2 separate regions of the Homo sapiens genome follow, and region 2 is linked to region 1. A link means that fine-mapping ties the variant in region 1 to the expression of a gene that starts in the linked region. Tissue or cell type: whole blood. Region 1 holds a variant in brackets; the other region holds the start of a gene. All regions are shown on one strand. Distances are between the middles of the regions.

Region 1 (8,105 bases):
CATTTTTTTTCTTTTTTTTGAGACGGAGTTTCACTCTTGTTACCCAGGCTGGAGTACAATGGTGTGATCTCGGCTCACTGCAACCTCGGCCTCCCAGGTTCAAGTGATTCTCCTGCCTCAGCCTCCCAACTAGCTGGGACTACAGGCATGCGCCACTACGCCTGGCTAGTTTTGTATTTTTAGTAGAGACAAGGTTTCTCCATGTTGGTCAGGCTGGTCTTGAACTCCCAATCTCAGGTGATCCGCCTGCCTTTGCCTCCCAAAGTGCTGGGATTACAGGCGTGAGCCACCGCACCCGGCCACATTCTCACTTATAAGCGGAAGCTAAACGTTGGATACACATGGACATAAAGATGGAAACAATAGTCACTGGGACCTGCTAGAGCAGGGAGAGTAGGAAAGTAGGAGAGTGAGAGAGGGGAGAGGAGAAGGGGAGAGTGAGAGAGGGGGAGAGGAGAAGGGGAGAGAGAGAGAGGGGGAGAGGAGAAGGGGAGAGTGAGAGAGGGGAGAGGAGAAGGGGAGAGTGAGAGAGGGGAGAGGAGAAGGGGAGAGTGAGAGAGGGGGAGAGGAGAAGGGGAGAGAGAGAGAGGGGGAGAGGAGAAGGGGAGAGGTGGAGGGAGAGGGGGACAAGAGTTGAAAAAGTACCTATCGGGTACTATCCTCACTACCTGGGTGAAAGGATGCTTTGCACCCCAAACCTCAGCATCATGCAATATACCCATGTAACAAATCCACACATGTATCCCCTGAATCTAAAATAAAAGTTGAAATTTTGAAAAAACATAATAAATAAGTTAAAAAGTTATATTTTAAAAGAAAACTTTTTAGAGAGCTCTTGTCTCTTTTTTTTTTTTTTTTGAGACAAGGTCTCACTCTGTCGCCCAGGCTGGACTGCAGTGGCGCAATCTCTGCTCACTGCAACTTCAGCCTCCCGGGTTCAAGCAATTCTCCTGCCTCAGCCTCCCCAGTGGCTGAGATTACAGGTGCGCACCACTATGCCCAGGTAATTTTTTTTTTTTTTTTTTTGTATTTTTAGTGGAGACAGGGTTTCACCATCTTGGCTAGCTGGCCTCGAACTGCTGACCTCAGGTGATCCATCTGCCTCAGCCTCCCAAAGTGCTGGGATTACAGATGTGAGCCACCGCGCCCGGCCACTAAGAGCTCTTGTCTTAAACAGCTTTCTTATTGGTACCTATGAAAAGACACAAAAGGAATATATAGCCTTAGAAACTCCCTTAGCAGGATTTCTTTTTTTAAGGCAGAAATCAGATTTACAACTAAGTTATAAATCCTTTGTGTAGCTGGATTCACTGATTTATGCCTGTAATCCCAACACTTCGGGAGGTCAAGGAAGGCTTGCTTGAGCCTAGGAGTTTGAGAACAGACTGGGCAACATAGGGAGATCCCATCTCTACAAAATAAATAAACAAATAAATGAGTCAGGCATCGTGACACACGCCTGTGGTCCCAGCTACTCAGCCAGGGGTAGGCAGGAGGACTGCTTGAGCCTAGGAGGTTGAGGCTGCAGTAAACCATGAGCACACCACACTGCACGCCAGCCTGGGTGACAGAACGAGACTTTGTCTCAAACAAATATATATATATGATATAAAAAATATATATTTCTAACATGTATATGTTATATATGTATAATATATATCACATATAATATATATGTCACATATATAATATATATATCACATATATAATATATATGTCACATATATAATATATATGTCACATATATATATATATATATATATATATATATATATATATATATATATAGTGCGCCCAAGCTGCCTGTTTTGGATCCCCCTGGGATTTACAAAGAAGACGGGCCACCCTAATCTAGGGCCTGGGTTCCATGCTTTCACCACCACAGCCTGGATTTGATTCCCAGTCAGGAAACCAGACTCTTGGAAATGCAAATCTTTTAACTCAGGACAAAACAAATAGAAACATTTGTAAAAAGTTAGTTTGGTATTTGCATAACTCTGACCTTTTGGGGTACCCTTTCACTTTGCAATCCTGTCTATTCCCACAGACAGCTTTTGACTTCCCATCTTACAAACTGCCATGCAATCTTCCGTCTGTGGGAGATACGGGTTGTCAGGCCTTTGTGTGCAGTCAGCCAGCTGAGAGGCTGAAACCCTAGATAATATGGCCAGACAGTAGCCCCATTTGCAGCTACTAAAATTCTCCTTTATTTGAGCTGCCTGGAGTGGTCTGGATCTGAGCAGGGTTGCAACTTTTGCCTCCTCTCTGGAGACCTTGGTGAAAGCCGTGAAAGGCTTCTTGGTTCTGGTCTCCTTGGTGCTTATTTCACTTGGCGTTGAGTCATTTGTTCAGGTATACCTTTGATAGAAAACTGGTTTGTATTTAGAGTGTGATAGCAACTTTTTTCTTTTGTCTCGCTTCCTCCCGTGGGCAGAAGAGACGTGTGTCTCCCACCACTGCTGGGAAGCTGAAGAGAGGCAGGGCTCCTCCCATGAGCAGAGCGGGTGGGAGCGCTCCACAGCCGAAATTCTTTCCACTCCAGTGTTAGGCCACGTGCTCATGAAACAGAAAGCTTGCTGCTTGTGTATTTTCAACACACCCTTCTGCTTTTTCTTTTTTCTTTTAGTTTTTGGGGGATTTTTCCCTGGCAGATATATAGAGCAATGCTTTTTCTCTTTGGATCCTGTTCCTACCCTGGGAATTCTTTTCAGTCAACTGAAATTTTGTTAAAAAGCAATTTTATGTTCCTTCCATCTGTTCACTTTTTTGTTGTTGTTGTTGTCGGCATGATTTTTACTGAGAAAAATGTAAAACATCCTTGGCCTTTTTGGGAAGTTTAAAATCTTCCCAAATTGAGCCCTCTAAGAATTGTTTTCCCATTTACTGTTGGCCCTTCTTCCTTTCTGCCACCTTCAATAACACACGAAGAAATCAAGAGGGAACTTCTAGCAGTCCTGAGACCCCTTGAGAAACCAGAAAAAGGTGCCATACACCCTCCTTTTGGGGGTCTTTTGTCTTCCTCACGGAGCCCCAAGGGTCATGGGCAGGTTACTCTCAAGTCTAAAGCGCCGCAGTCTTTTGCATTGAGTTCCCTGATATTTTCATTTTTTTGAGACACAGTCTGTCTCTGTCACCTAGGCAGGGGTGCAGTGGTGCATTTGTGAGAAACACACTCACCCATCCAAACCCAAAGAATGGACTTAGAGGCACAAAGAACAGCGAAAGGGAGACTTTTCATAACGGTCTTGC[G/C]AGATCGGGTGTCTGGTGAGCAGGCACAACCAGGGCGGTCACAACGGGTAATTTATGTCCTAGCACACAAGTCCCTCCCCCAGTTCCTCACTGGTTGAGTACTGTGGGGTTACAATCTTCCCGGACATCGCCTAACTTTCATTATCCCCCTTACAAAGTTATACCCCGTCCTCTTCCCCACTTAAGTTTTGATTTCCCCATAACAAAACTTTCTTCCCTTTTATGAGCTGACCACACCTCTACATTCTGTCCACTTACTGTGACCTTCTGGGTGCATGAGCCATGTGGTTTCTTACATTTGCAGGCTGGCTGCCAGTGCTTAGACTTATCATGCCTTGCAAATGGACCATTTAAAAGGTTTTCTCACCAATTCCCTCCTCTTTTCTATTTACTTATTTTGTTCTCATTTTCTTTTAAACCCTTTTGGGCCGTGAATCGCTCCAGAAGTTGTTTACTTTCTTCCTCATAGGAGAGTGAGTTTAATTTGCTTTCTAATAGTGGCAGGTTATTTTGCTGGTAAGTCATGGGCATTTGTTTATTAATAGCTGTTTTAATTAATTTCTGTGCTAGTCCCCTCACACAAGGGATAATACAACATTCCACTGCTATTAAGAATCCTGCCACAATTATGAGAGATATAAGGATTGAAGCTACCATTCCTTTCCATTTTCCAAATCAGCCTTCTAGCCAACCCGTAAATGGGTCATTAATTCCGAGCATTTCTTCCAGTTCGTTGGCTAGAGTTGTTAGTCCTTGTAAAGCTTTTGTGATGGTCCCATTTGGGGCAGTATTGCTGGGAATGAAAGTACAAAATTTCCCGCCCAGCATAACACACACGCTCCCTTTTTCTCTAGTATCATGTCTAGCGCAAGTCTGTTTTCCCAGGCCATTTAGCTGGTGGCATCTAACTGGCTAGCCACCCTTTGAGGGCATCCCAAGTATAATTGATGAATTCCTGTTGATTATAATAGATGGAGTTAATTTAATTCGCATTCTTCTTAATAGTTGACCAGCAGAAGTGTCCTGACTTTAAACCCAGCACCTACTGCGTTTCAGGCCTTCAATTTATTAGGCAACCCTACCCCCACCAGGGTCTCCTATTGAGTCAACATACACATTGGGATTAAAAGAATTTGTGAAATCTCTCTGGTTTCAGTGGCCATGTGTATTTTGGGGTATCTTATGGGATGCCAGGGTGAAGGGAATGGCCAATGAGACTAAAGCACAAGTCCTGGTCCCATTGGACAGTAACAGGTTACGTAGGTTCCTTTTCCCATAATACTACCAGACATCAGCCCGGGGTGTATGGAGAGCTGAGTAATTGCCATTGCTCAACTCACCAGTGACGTTTAGGATGTGGGTACAAGTTGAGAGTTCTCCCATAGGCTTATGGAACTCTGCCCCCTGTCTAGAGAGGCAAGAGGAGTAGTTCATGTTCTCTGCAGAGAACGAGGGTATTGCTCTGGGATCTGAGCTCCGCAATGCAGGAAACAGCAATGAAAGACTCTTACAAGTCTTACTTCTCCTTACTTATATCATTGTGCTGGTATGCAGCCAACATGCAACACATTCCTCTAGAATCACTATTCCATCCCAGGGGAAACGGAACCACCTGCGCCTGAGGTGGTCCTGCAGCACACGCGTAGCAGTTACTTTTGCTGAGGGCTTGTACCGAAAATATGACCCATTTGACCCAGGCATTCACATCCCTATACCCTGTCTCAATTTCTAAGGTTTGCCTTAAATCCTTTACCTCAATTATTGTTACCATTTTAGGGTTAATATTTGGTAGACTAAAGTGTTTATTAGGGTCTGGGGTTGGAGTAGTTCCAGGCAAATGGGAGGTTGAGTTCTTGATTAGCCTGAGATCAAATCGACCTGGGGGTCTTTCCTTGTGATGTCTTCTCCTAACCCATATACCTGAGATGCTACTTTTGGTTCTTGGTCTAGAAAGGCTGAATTGTCAAGGGTGATGAGTATAGGATGGCATTCTAAATTCTGGCAGTTATTTGGTGGGGAGCGCTTGGACAGAGGTAGTTTATGCTTCAAGGGTTTCCAGTTTGGAGTTACCCACACCATGTTTACTGTCCAACCCTGAAATTGGGTAGCGCACCATACATCCTCCCAGCTGGGGAAGGGTGATGCCCTACTGCAACCTGCATCTGGTTCAAGGCAAAGAGATTTATCTGCCTGCGAGAGCTGTCTCTGATTTTCTAAATTCCCACAAGGTAAAACCTGACAGGCATCAAATCTTATAGTTTGGGGTGCTACCGTCTTAATCATATTAATCACCAACCTGATTGAGCAGTGGGGAGTCCCCTGCCAGTTTCCATTTTGACCTTCTGCTCTTTGTATACTAACCCATCCCAGCCTTATTACCTTTCAGAAATGCAGCCAGCCCACGCTTTCTTTCTAAATTTTTCTCAGAGTTAACTTTAAGTGTTCGTCAGGTGACCCATGCACTTCCCACTGTTCTTTCTCCTTCCCTTTCCAGGTCTCTTTTACCGGCCTCTTGATTCCAGTGTAGTGAGTCCACCCCCATTCAGCTGTTCGCAGGGCTGTCTCAGGGGCAGAGGCACTTGACAGGGACCTTCCCAGCTTGGGTGGAGCTTGTCTTCTTTCCAAATCTTAGTCAGCACCAAGTTGCCAGGCTGGAAGTAGTGAACCATGAACTCAAGAGGCAGAGCTTGCGTCAGAAGACCTTTTAACCTGAGGGATGACAGGGTGGAAGATATGGCCAGTATATCATTTCTTAAGAATTGGTTTTTGGTTTCCATAGTGGGAGGATCTGTAGCCCTGCCCAAATATGGGAGTCCATATAATAACTTGTAGGGGACAATCCCAAGTCTTTTCTGGGGACTGTCCGAATCCTAATCCTAAAGCCATGGGAGATATTTGGTCCAAGGCACTTTAGTTTCTAAGTTTAGTTTGGTGAGATGCTTTTTGAGAGTTTGGTTTATTCTTTTTACCTTTCCACAGGATGCCAAGGGGTGGGATAATCCCATCAAATTTGTAAACCTTCCATAATTCCCCTTAACACTCTTGAAATAGCTTCCTTTCTAATCTCGTGCGGTTCAAAGAAATCACTTCTCTTTTAACAAAGGGTAGCCTGAAAGTTCAGGCTATAAACTACAGATAAACAACTTAAGCATAGAAGGAGGCGGGGGATGTCTCCTGGGTAAACACCAAACTTCACACTCCCACAGTCGGGCCCAGTATAAACAGTGGGCCTTAATAAGCACATTCCTTTCCCTTTAGGCACATTAAGATAGGGAAGCTAAAGCTGACTGGGATGGGGGGGCGGTGGGAGATGCCTGCAGCTGCAAAAAGATGGCTGGGAATAGACACAGAATCTCTCCCTCCCAGATAAGCAACACAAAGAATTAGAGTATTGGCCAGGCACAGGCTCAAGCGTGTAATCCCAGTACTTTGGGAGGCTGAGGCGGGTGGATTACCTGAGGTCAGGAGTTCCAGACCAGCCTGGCCAATGTGGTGAAAGCCCATCTCTACTAAAACTACAAAAAGAAATTTGCTGGGTGTGGTGGCACGCACCCAGCTACTCAGGAGGCTGAGGCAGAAGAATTGCTTGAACCCGGGAGGTGGAGGGTGCAGTGAGCTGAGATCATGCCATTGCACTCCAGCCTGGATGACAAGAGTGAAACTCCATCTCAAAAAAAAAAGTATTATATGGTGACATGCAGGGTTCTAACAGTCCATTTTTAATTAATCCCTCTATTACTGGTTGGAGATCTTTTCTCCCTTCAACAGAAATGGGATATTGTTTTCTGCAAACTCCTCCTGGTTGTTTTAGTCCAATCTGTAAGGCTGTGATTCTTAAGTGTCCCCGCTTGCCTTTCCCAAACCACAAAACGGGACTAATTTTTCTTCCCTCCTCCTCTGTTAGGAGGCCCATCCTTACTTTCATTTGTCCTTTCTGTGTATCCCTAATCCTAAACTGAATCTCACAATCAGGTCTCTACCCACTAGGTTAGTTCCTGCTTCAGGAATATATAAGAGTGACCCCTCAATGTGTTCTGGTCCCAGTCTAATTAACATTGTCTTGAATATCAGAACCTGTAATCCCTCCCCTTTTACGCCTAATACTTTCAGTTTTTCCTTAGAGAGTTCTGTACCCTTTGGTTTGTGGATTAGGGAGGAGTGAGCTGCCCCAGTGTCAACCAAAAATGTCACTTCTTCTCCCTAAGGTCCCGCCTTCCAATTTATCAAGGGTTCTTGGTGGGACCTACTCAGAAGGAAGCCCTGACCCCCATTGTATTCATCAACGGTCATGAGGGGGATCATCTCTTCTTCTTTTTTCCATTGAGGACATTCTCTCTTAAGATGCCCTGGCTTTCCACACTTGTAACATCTAGCCACTCATAGTCTTAGGAGGTTTCCCCTGCATTTCCTTTCTTTCTCTGTGTCGAAATCTATCATTCCCTTGTCTCATTTGAGGGGGATCTTGAGCTAATCTTTTTTTGGCTACCTCTTCCACAGTGGAAATCATGATGTTCCCTTTCTGTTTCTGCTTCTCTTCCCCTCTTTTCACAAAGACCTTCTGAGCTTCACTCAGTAATTCCTCAATCGGTTTCTCATTCCATCCATCAATCTTTTGTAATTTTTTTTTTTGTAATGTCAAGCCAGCTTTTAGTAACAAAGTTAATCTGCAACAGGCCTTGCCCTACTGGGTCCTCCGGATCTAATCTGGAGTATTTTCTCATCTCTGAGCCTCTGCAGGAATGTGAAGGGAGTTTTCTCTTTTTCTTGTTGAATCTCAAATGCCTTTGAGACATTTTGTGTCCTAGGAGTGTACTCTTTGATCCCTTGAATTACTAGTTTCCTGAGGTCCTGCATTT
Region 2 (8,105 bases), 28 kb after region 1:
CTCCCTGCCCAGATGCTGTGGACATGCCTCAGGTCCAGAGGCAGCCTTCCCTGCCCTCCGGCTCCCCGTGGGCCCTGGGTGCCAGCCCTCCCTCCTCCAGGCGATGCACTGCAATTTCTCCCATCTTTAAGATGAGACCGTTTTTCTCCACAGGGCTGTGTCCACTCTCATCTCCCTTCTCTTCCAGAAAGTGCCCTAGCCCAGGAGCTCCACTGTCTGCTTTGCTCAGGGGCCTCTCTACCAGATTCAATGGGCAGTGTTCTTTCCTCATCGGATTTGATCTTGGCGCAGGATTTATCCCCCTGACCTCTTTCTCTCCTTGAAACACAGGTGCTCACTTGGATTCCAGGGCTCCACACCTGCAATTTTCCTTTTATCTCAAGGCGGCAGCAGCTCTCCCTACCCCCTTCTCTTGCCCTCGTCCTCCCTCACTTTCCTCCTCCTACTTCCCCTTCTCTCCCTTCTCCTCCACTAACCCCTTGGGCTCCCACGGTCCAGGGCTGGCATTTCGCAGGGTCTGCCCTCCCTGGGGCTGCTTCTCAAAACACACTCAACCCTCTCAAGCCCCAGCTCCTGCTACATACGGTGACTCCAGATTTCCACCTCCAGCCACAGCTTTCTATCCCAGAGGGTCATCCCCACTTGTCTCCTGGGCATCTGAAAACCAGCAAGTCCCAAATCCACCAATTCAACCCCAAACCCAACCCCTTCCTGGAAACCTGCTTCCTTGCATCTGCCATCTCTAGAAGGCCTGTTCAGTCACCCAGTTTCAGCCCCAGTCACAGCCGTTCCTCACTCCTCTAACACAGGCAGCATGCCTTCAACACAGAGCCTGGATTGGGCCTACTGTTCACCAGCTGTGCCTCCACCAGTCAACTCCAGGAACCGAGCATCTCCTGCCGGGATCTCTACAACGATTCCTAACAGAGACTCTGCTTCATCTGTTCTGCACAGTGATCTTGATAAAATCAAGATTCCGTTAGGCCACACTCCTACTTGAAACCCTCTAATGACTATAACATCTGGTGACCTGGTTCCAGCCTCACCATTCTCTCACTATTCCTCTGCCCAGCTGAGCAAGCACACGCTGTTTCCTCTGCTGGAATACTCTTCCCACACACCTCTGCTCAGGAGCCCCCCACCTGCTCTCCACTCAAATGTCACCTCCTGACAGAGGCCCTACCTGAACATCCCCAGCACACTCTTCCCCACCATGTTGTATTTCTTTCATGACACCGATCACCAATGGCGTTATATTGCAGAATCGCTGATTTATTATTTGATTCCCCTCCCAACTCCTTGGATCATTCTTCTATGGTCTCCCCATGGATCGAATAATCATTGGCACATAGCAAACATTTCATAAAAACAGATACAATTGGCAACATTATATTCATACAAACCTAATACACGCACACACTGGGCATGATGATGGTGCAGTCCTTGAGCAGGGTTTACAGGCAGGATCCTCTTCCCGATGCTTCACCCGTGGTATCTGATACAACCCCACTTCATTCAGAGGCGAACACCTTCCCCACGGGCTCCTGTGCCCCCACCCAGCTCTATGCCATCCCTCTCCTCTCACTCACCAGCCCACCTTGCTTCGCACCGCTCCCCCTTAGGGCCTTTGCTGTCAAGGTGGTCTCCATGTGTCAAACAGGGACTCTGACCAACTACTTCATCTCAAATACCACCTTCACAGTAAGGCCTGCCTGCCCTCCTCTTTAATACCATGACTGTTACCAGCCCCTCCCCAGCACTCCTGACTTCCTGATGCCTCTCCACTTTCCTTTTTTTCTGTAGCACAGATCAAAGAGAGCAGGTCATGTTACTGATTTTGCTTCCTCCAATAGCCAGTTGTGTTCACAGATGTACCTGAGCACCTGGAAGGCTGGCTGCCTAGCACTCATGAGTGTACAGTAGGTACTCGGTATAGGTTTGCTGAATGACTGAATCTTTGATCCTGCACAACCATCCAATGAGGTAGACAGCATCATCCCTGTTTTCTGGATGAGGAAGTTGAGGTACAGAAAGGTTATGTAGGCCTGAGGTCACCTGGCTAGGAATTCATAGGGCAGGATTTAATCCGGGTGCCTGAGTCCAGAACCTTGACTCTGAAGCCCTGTTTTGAGCTAAATGCAGCAGCAGCATAAACAGCCCGTTTTGTGCCTCAAAAGGTGAACAGTGGGAGGCACAGCTGGGCAGGGACGTGTCAGGTCAGGGGAAGAAACTGAATTGGGTAGTGGGGATTAATTGGATGCTGTCTGCCAGCAATTTCTGCCTCCTGCATTTTATCTGCTTTAGGGTTGCAAGGGGCAGAGCTATGAACACGGATGCCCACTCAACAGCCAGTTCCTGGGCCAATCAAAGGGTTGGGAGCTGTAGCACCAGAGCTCTGGAACCCCACAGACTAGGATGTTTGCTAGAGCACCTAAGCCCTACCAGCCTTTGATGACCCCTCGGTTCCTCCCAATTCCTCTCCTCCATGTCACGGTTCCTGGCTGGTGTTCCTGAGAGTGGGCTGTACATGAGTTCTGTAAATGCCAGTCCAGTTACGTCAAAGGGGGTGGCTCTCACTTGTACCTGTAGGCTCCAGCTAAGATCTGCGTGGCCCTGCCCGGCATCTGGCTGTCATCCGGGAAACAATCACTGTTCACAAACAAGGGCTTCACTCCTTCGCTCGCTCCATCTCCTGCTAAAGTCAGAATGTGAACACTGACAAACAGCGGCTCCCAGTAACTCTGCTAGTCAGAAGTGATTATTCCAGCAGTTCAGAGGAGGAAGTGGCGGTGCCCAGGGCCACGGGATTAGAAGAGCAACGGAGCTAAAGGATCCCGTGCCTCAGTCCAACCACCTTGTTCCCACTTACTCAGCCGGGCCACTTTCTTTGGAGAAACTGATTTCCTTCTGCTTGCCCTTGAAAGGGGATCCGAAGGAAATCGGAGCTACCGGCAGTAGCTACCCTCCGGAAGACGGAGAATCTTCTCCACCTTCTCCTCTGCGTAGGAGAATCCAATTTCGGTGCAGAGCAGATGGCGAAGGGGCCATGGGAATCAGACCTGCTCAGGGACCGGGTTCGCACTTTCTCTCAAGCTCTGGAGCCTGAAAAATGAGCATTCCCCGGGGACGACCCATGTAAGAATTTGGGCTATATTCAGCATAGTGCAGCGGCCAGCAGCCCTGTCTCGGGGTGGGGTCCGGAGGCCCCCATTTCTGCTTGCCCCTCACTGCCACATAACCTTGGGTCAGAGTCCCTCATCCTCTCCCTCCGCCACTGTGCACAGCTGCAACCGTGTTCACTTCAGCGAGCAACGAGCCCCGTGACCCCCACTCAGGGTCAGGACTCACCGCAGCCCCTCTGCGCAAGCCCCGAGGCTCTGCGTGGCCTCCGGATGCGCGGCCTTTCCTAACCCGGGGACTCCGCACGTGGGCGCCAGGCCCGGAAGGCGCGGATGTGAGCGCTACCTTCGGCGTCCCGCAGCGGCAGGAGGGGCTGGGCGGCCCGGGCTTCGGCTGGCGGCGGGGGGGGGGTCGCAGGGGAGTCTGAAATGAGGCGGCCGACGGCGCGCGGGGCCTCCTCTCTCCGCTCCATCCCGCACCCCCAATTCCAGCTTCCATCCCCAGCCGCGACTCCCGGTCGGCCGTTCCGGGCGTCCACTGGCCGCGTGTCCTGGGGGCGCCAGAGAAGGAGAACAGCGGAGAAAAGAGCCCCGGGCCGACCTTCCGGACCGGCGGGCCCGCGGGGAAGCCCGGGCGCGGCGACGTGGCTGACCCACAAAGCCCCCGGCCCGGCGGCCAGGCCCAGGCGCGCGCGGAGCGGGGCGGGCCGGGGGTGTCGGATGTCACCCCCAGCGCACACCTCGGCCGGGGGGCGGGGGAGCGAACCACTGAGATGCGGAGACCTCCCCAGTCCTAGAGCGGAGCAGGAAGTGTCCCAGGGGAGGGAGCCGGAGGGCTCCGGCCTTTCCTTTCCTCGGCGTCCGGCGGGCTCCCGCGGCGGCCAGGCCTGCGCCGCCCGCCAACAGGGACGCGCCGCGGCGGTGAGTGCACCCCGGCTCCCGCGGCCGGCCCCGCCCCGCCCTCCTCGGCCCGCGCCCGGCCTCCGCGGCGCCGCCTCCCAGCCCAGAGCCCAGCGCTCAGGAAGGTGCGGGCGGGGGAGAAAGCAACACCATTGTTTTTCAGGCGCCTCCATTTGCCCCCGAGCCGAGCCGTGGCTTTCCGGATGATCGGGAGACGCGGTCTGGACGGGCCGGGAAAGGAGCCGGGCGCCTGCGGAGACCCCGCCTCAGCGAGTACGCCCGGCCGGGCGGGCTGGGAGGATGAGGACGGCTGCCCTGGACTTCCGCCGCCACAGGAGGGTTTTCGGCCGGACGCCGGGAGGGAGCTCCAGGCTGTGAGGTGAGGAGCCCGGAGCCGGCGAGACGGGAGACGCGCGTGTGAGGGAGACCGAGGGCGCGGAGGGCGGGCTCCCCCTTCCCTGGCCCACAGCGACCTTCTCCTTCCCTTTCTGCCGATCCAGCTCGGTCCCTCCTCCGCGAAAGGCTGGGAGCTCGCTCCGCCCCTGCGGGGCCCTCCTCCGCCTCACTCACGTTAGTTCATTCATCAGGCATCTCCTCCGAGCCTCCGACGCGCCAGGTGCCGCCGTGACAAAGACGGACGCGGCCGTCTGGTTGGAGACGATCCGAGTGGCAGCCCGGGTGGGCGCCGGTGCTCGGGGGGGCGGGCCTGAGTAGTCCTGGGCGCTGCAGGTGTGTGATGGGCGCCGCAGGGGGCCGCCGAGCAGGGCGGGCGGGGCCCACCCCGGGCTCCAGATGCCGGAGCCGCCCTGGAAGCGATCCGGTGGTGGGGAGCGCTGTAATGCGTCCAGCCCGACGCCGCCACGGCCCCCATATGGGTTTCTGTGTATGTTGTTACTTTGGAAAGCAAAGAGATTCAGAGCAGTGGGTGTTTCTGGAACCACTCAGTTGTTCCGTAGCTTTTCTGGCATCACTTGTCTTTCTGTGAAATGGGAGTGAGGCCCGAGTCCCCCTTCCCACCTTGTGAGCTGTTGGAGGTTAAGACGCGGCCACGCTGGACAACCTCGTGCAGATGGGGGAGTGGCAGGCACTGCCGGTCCTAAGGATCACAGAGGCCTGATGGCAGAGAAGGGGACTGTGAGTGTCCCCATGTGCCCTTTCACGGGCCCAGCGTTCTAAAGTGGGAATCATAAACACCAGGTATACTGGTTGCTGGTCTCTTGCCACCCTAGTTGTGGCAAAAGTGTCGGCTAGTTGTCTGCACACCAGCGGGGAGGTGTAGGGACCCCTGAGTCCCACCTTGGGGGTGTGGCAGCTGCAGTGTCCAGGGGTTCTTTGAGGGCTGAGCTGTGCAGTGACGGACCCACTTTTCTGTCCTGGCCGAGGAAGGGCTTTGGCGAGTGTGCAGTTGCCTTCAATGTGGTTTGAAGAGGGCAAGGATAGAGAATAGGGTGGAGGCGAGGTTGAAGGTCAGGGCAGAATTGGCAGAAGGCTCATAGGAAACCACTGATACTTCTAGATGCAGTGTTATTTGTCCCTGGTAGACTGCATGTAGCTGTCTCATGTGATGTTTTCCCTTGCCTCCCATTGCAGACTCTGCTGGGCAAAGCTGATTCTGGCTGGGTTGTCCATCCAGCACGCAGCACCATCAGCCCTCTGCCACCAGAAGGGTGGATTTTCCATTCCTGGATGTGCTTGAAGGCTCATCCGATGCATGTCTTTGTCATTCCAGCTCCATTTGTAAAGGTCTTAATAACAAGAACAGTGACTTCGGCTCCGGAGCTTCAAGATAGTGGCCTGCTTGGCCTGCCCATCTCGGATCTCTCCAGGAGGACCCAGCCACCCAAGGTACCAGAGCGTCTTGATTACATCTGCATGTGGCGCTGTTGGTTTCCTGGGATGCTCAAAACAGCAGTGTCACGTTGAAATGCCACCACTTTCTCCCAGATTTCCTGTCTTGTTCATCCAGTCACCCACTTAACGGGAATCCACACGTAATGGTACTGATGGGGGGAGGGCATCTTTCTGTCTGTTTCATCCTGTGTGTAAAGACCAGCCACACCAACACTCCCTACCTTTCCCAGGGCTTCTCCAAAGGGCTGGTCTCTGAGGGCATTGACAGTTTCCTTGTCACTGTCCCCCAGAAATGACCACAGGAGACCAGAACACTGAAGCCAGTGATTTCTGTTTGGAAATAGGGTCGTCTTCTGCTGCTGACCCCCATCAAATCCCATCATGCCCACAGCCCTGTGCCCCCGAGTCTTGGCTCCGAAGGAAAGTGAGGAGCCCAGGAAAATGAGGAGCCCACCTGGAGAGAACCCTAGCCCCCAGGGGGAGCTTCCCAGCCCCGAGTCCTCTCGGCGTCTCTTCCGCCGTTTCCGCTACCAGGAGGCGGCGGGCCCCCGGGAGGCCCTGCAGCGCCTCTGGGACCTGTGCGGGGGCTGGCTGCGGCCTGAGAGGCACACCAAGGAGCAGATTCTGGAGCTGCTGGTGCTGGAGCAGTTCCTGGCCATCCTGCCCCGGGAGATCCAGAGCTGGGTGCGGGCGCAGGAGCCTGAGAGCGGAGAGCAGGCTGTGGCCGCGGTGGAGGCACTGGAACGGGAGCCCGGGAGACCCTGGCAGTGGGTGAGTAGAAGAGGTGGGGCTGGGACGGGTAGAGATCTGGTACTTAGACACTTTGGCTGGGCCATGCATGTGCTGGCTGGGGAATGAGGAGTTCCATCGAGAGCCATTTACTTTGGTTAGGTCCAGACTAGAGTTTCCTAAGAAAGCCAGTTTTACTCCCTGAAGGCTCTAATTTGGGCATGATAGTGTCGTGCCCCTTTACAGCCCAGTCCAAGGCCTAAGTTGAGCCTTTGATGGTCAGCTGTGGAGTGGATGGTCACCAGGCCCAGGGAGAGATGGGACCTCTTCCCCTAGCCCTGAAAAGCTGTCTCTGGGATTGCAGCTCAAGCACTGTGAAGACCCTGTGGTGATTGATGATGGGGACAGCCCTCTGGACCAGGAGCAGGAGCAGCTGCCGGTAGAGCCCCACAGCGACCTTGCAAAGAACCAGGATGCCCAGCCCATAACCCTGGCACAGTGCCTGGGGCTCCCAAGCAGACCACCAAGCCAGCTCAGCGGGGACCCAGGTATGCAGCCCAGGGGAGTGTAGCAGGGGTGATCTGGGGAAGTGCACACCCCATACTGTGCACTGGGTGTGGTTTTTGTTAAGCTGATGGCTTTTACATCAGCAGTGTTCTCGTGTCCCCGAGGTGCTGTGAGCTGTTGTCAGGGTCTGAGTCCCTTCCTAGAGCAATTAAATGAGAACCTCATCAGGATGTTTGTCCTCTTCATGGTTCTAGAGCCTCTCAGAGCTAACGCTTCTGTAGGTGGGTGTCACTGAGGTGGTGCCCTCTCATCTCTTCGAGGGTGCATCTCTGCAGGATTTGTCAGTTTGATGACAGCTGGGGACTGCCAGTGTACAGCTGGGGCCTGCTGCATGACTGGAGCATGGCCATTTCTTGTCTCTTGGAACCTCTGTTTCCTTGGCTAAACAACTCCTGTTTACAGGAGTATTGTGATGCTGCGAAGAGATGTAGAAATACTTAGGAGGACACAGGGTGGTGTCTAGTGTGTGGGGCCAGAACATCAGCTACACATAGTTTGAGTATGTATATGAAGTACATGGTAGCTACAGGAAAGTAGTTTTTTCATCAGATAAACTTAGATTTGAATCTTCTGGTTATGACCTGAGGCATGTTTCTAAACTCTGAAAGCCTCAGTTTCTTCCTCTGTCCAGCAGAGATAGTAATTACCTTTTTTGGGGTTTTTGGACAATTAAATGAGATACAACCTACAAAAGGTTGAACACAAGGCCTGAGGTGCCCAAAACTTTAAGTACATATCATGGGAAACCAGCGCCCTTGGGTTGAAGGAAGTCTGGCCCGTGGGTTCCTCTGGGTGGACTTGCCACGGTGCTTTATATGTACAGTGGAAAGAGAGTGTCTGGGGGGCCAGGGGGGCTTTCTTATGACTCTGGGTGGACTTGCCATAGTGCTCTATAGGTACAATGGAAAGAGAGTGTCTGGGGGGCCAGGGGAGACTTTC

What was found. PIP is the estimated chance that this variant, and not a neighbour inherited with it, causes the effect.
Region 2: ZNF496 starts here. The variant in region 1 is fine-mapped to the expression of ZNF496 in whole blood (TOPMed, PIP 0.99).

Annotation. Positions count from the first base shown.
Region 1 is chr1:247,355,627-247,363,731 of GRCh38, reverse strand. The region is part of intron 1 of ZNF496-DT (ZNF496 divergent transcript); the gene reads right to left. Among named protein-coding and RNA genes, the nearest start is that of ZNF496-DT, 28 kb to the right of the region's middle. RefSeq lists enhancers at 554-1,098, 5,703-6,002. The variant G/C (reference allele first, on the strand shown) is at 3,250.
Region 2 is chr1:247,327,725-247,335,829 of GRCh38, reverse strand. ZNF496 (zinc finger protein 496) reads left to right here and starts at 3,963. Exons shown (of 10, transcript NM_032752.3): 1 at 3,963-4,040; 2 at 4,183-4,398; 3 at 5,749-5,864; 4 at 6,215-6,641; 5 at 6,964-7,147. The coding sequence starts at 6,252. ZNF496-DT (ZNF496 divergent transcript) reads right to left here and starts at 3,776. Exons shown (of 3, transcript NR_168399.1): 1 at 2,584-3,776. RefSeq lists enhancers at 1-17, 3,789-4,083, 6,470-6,972 and silencers at 1,989-2,283, 3,396-3,875, 4,006-4,115, 4,686-4,925.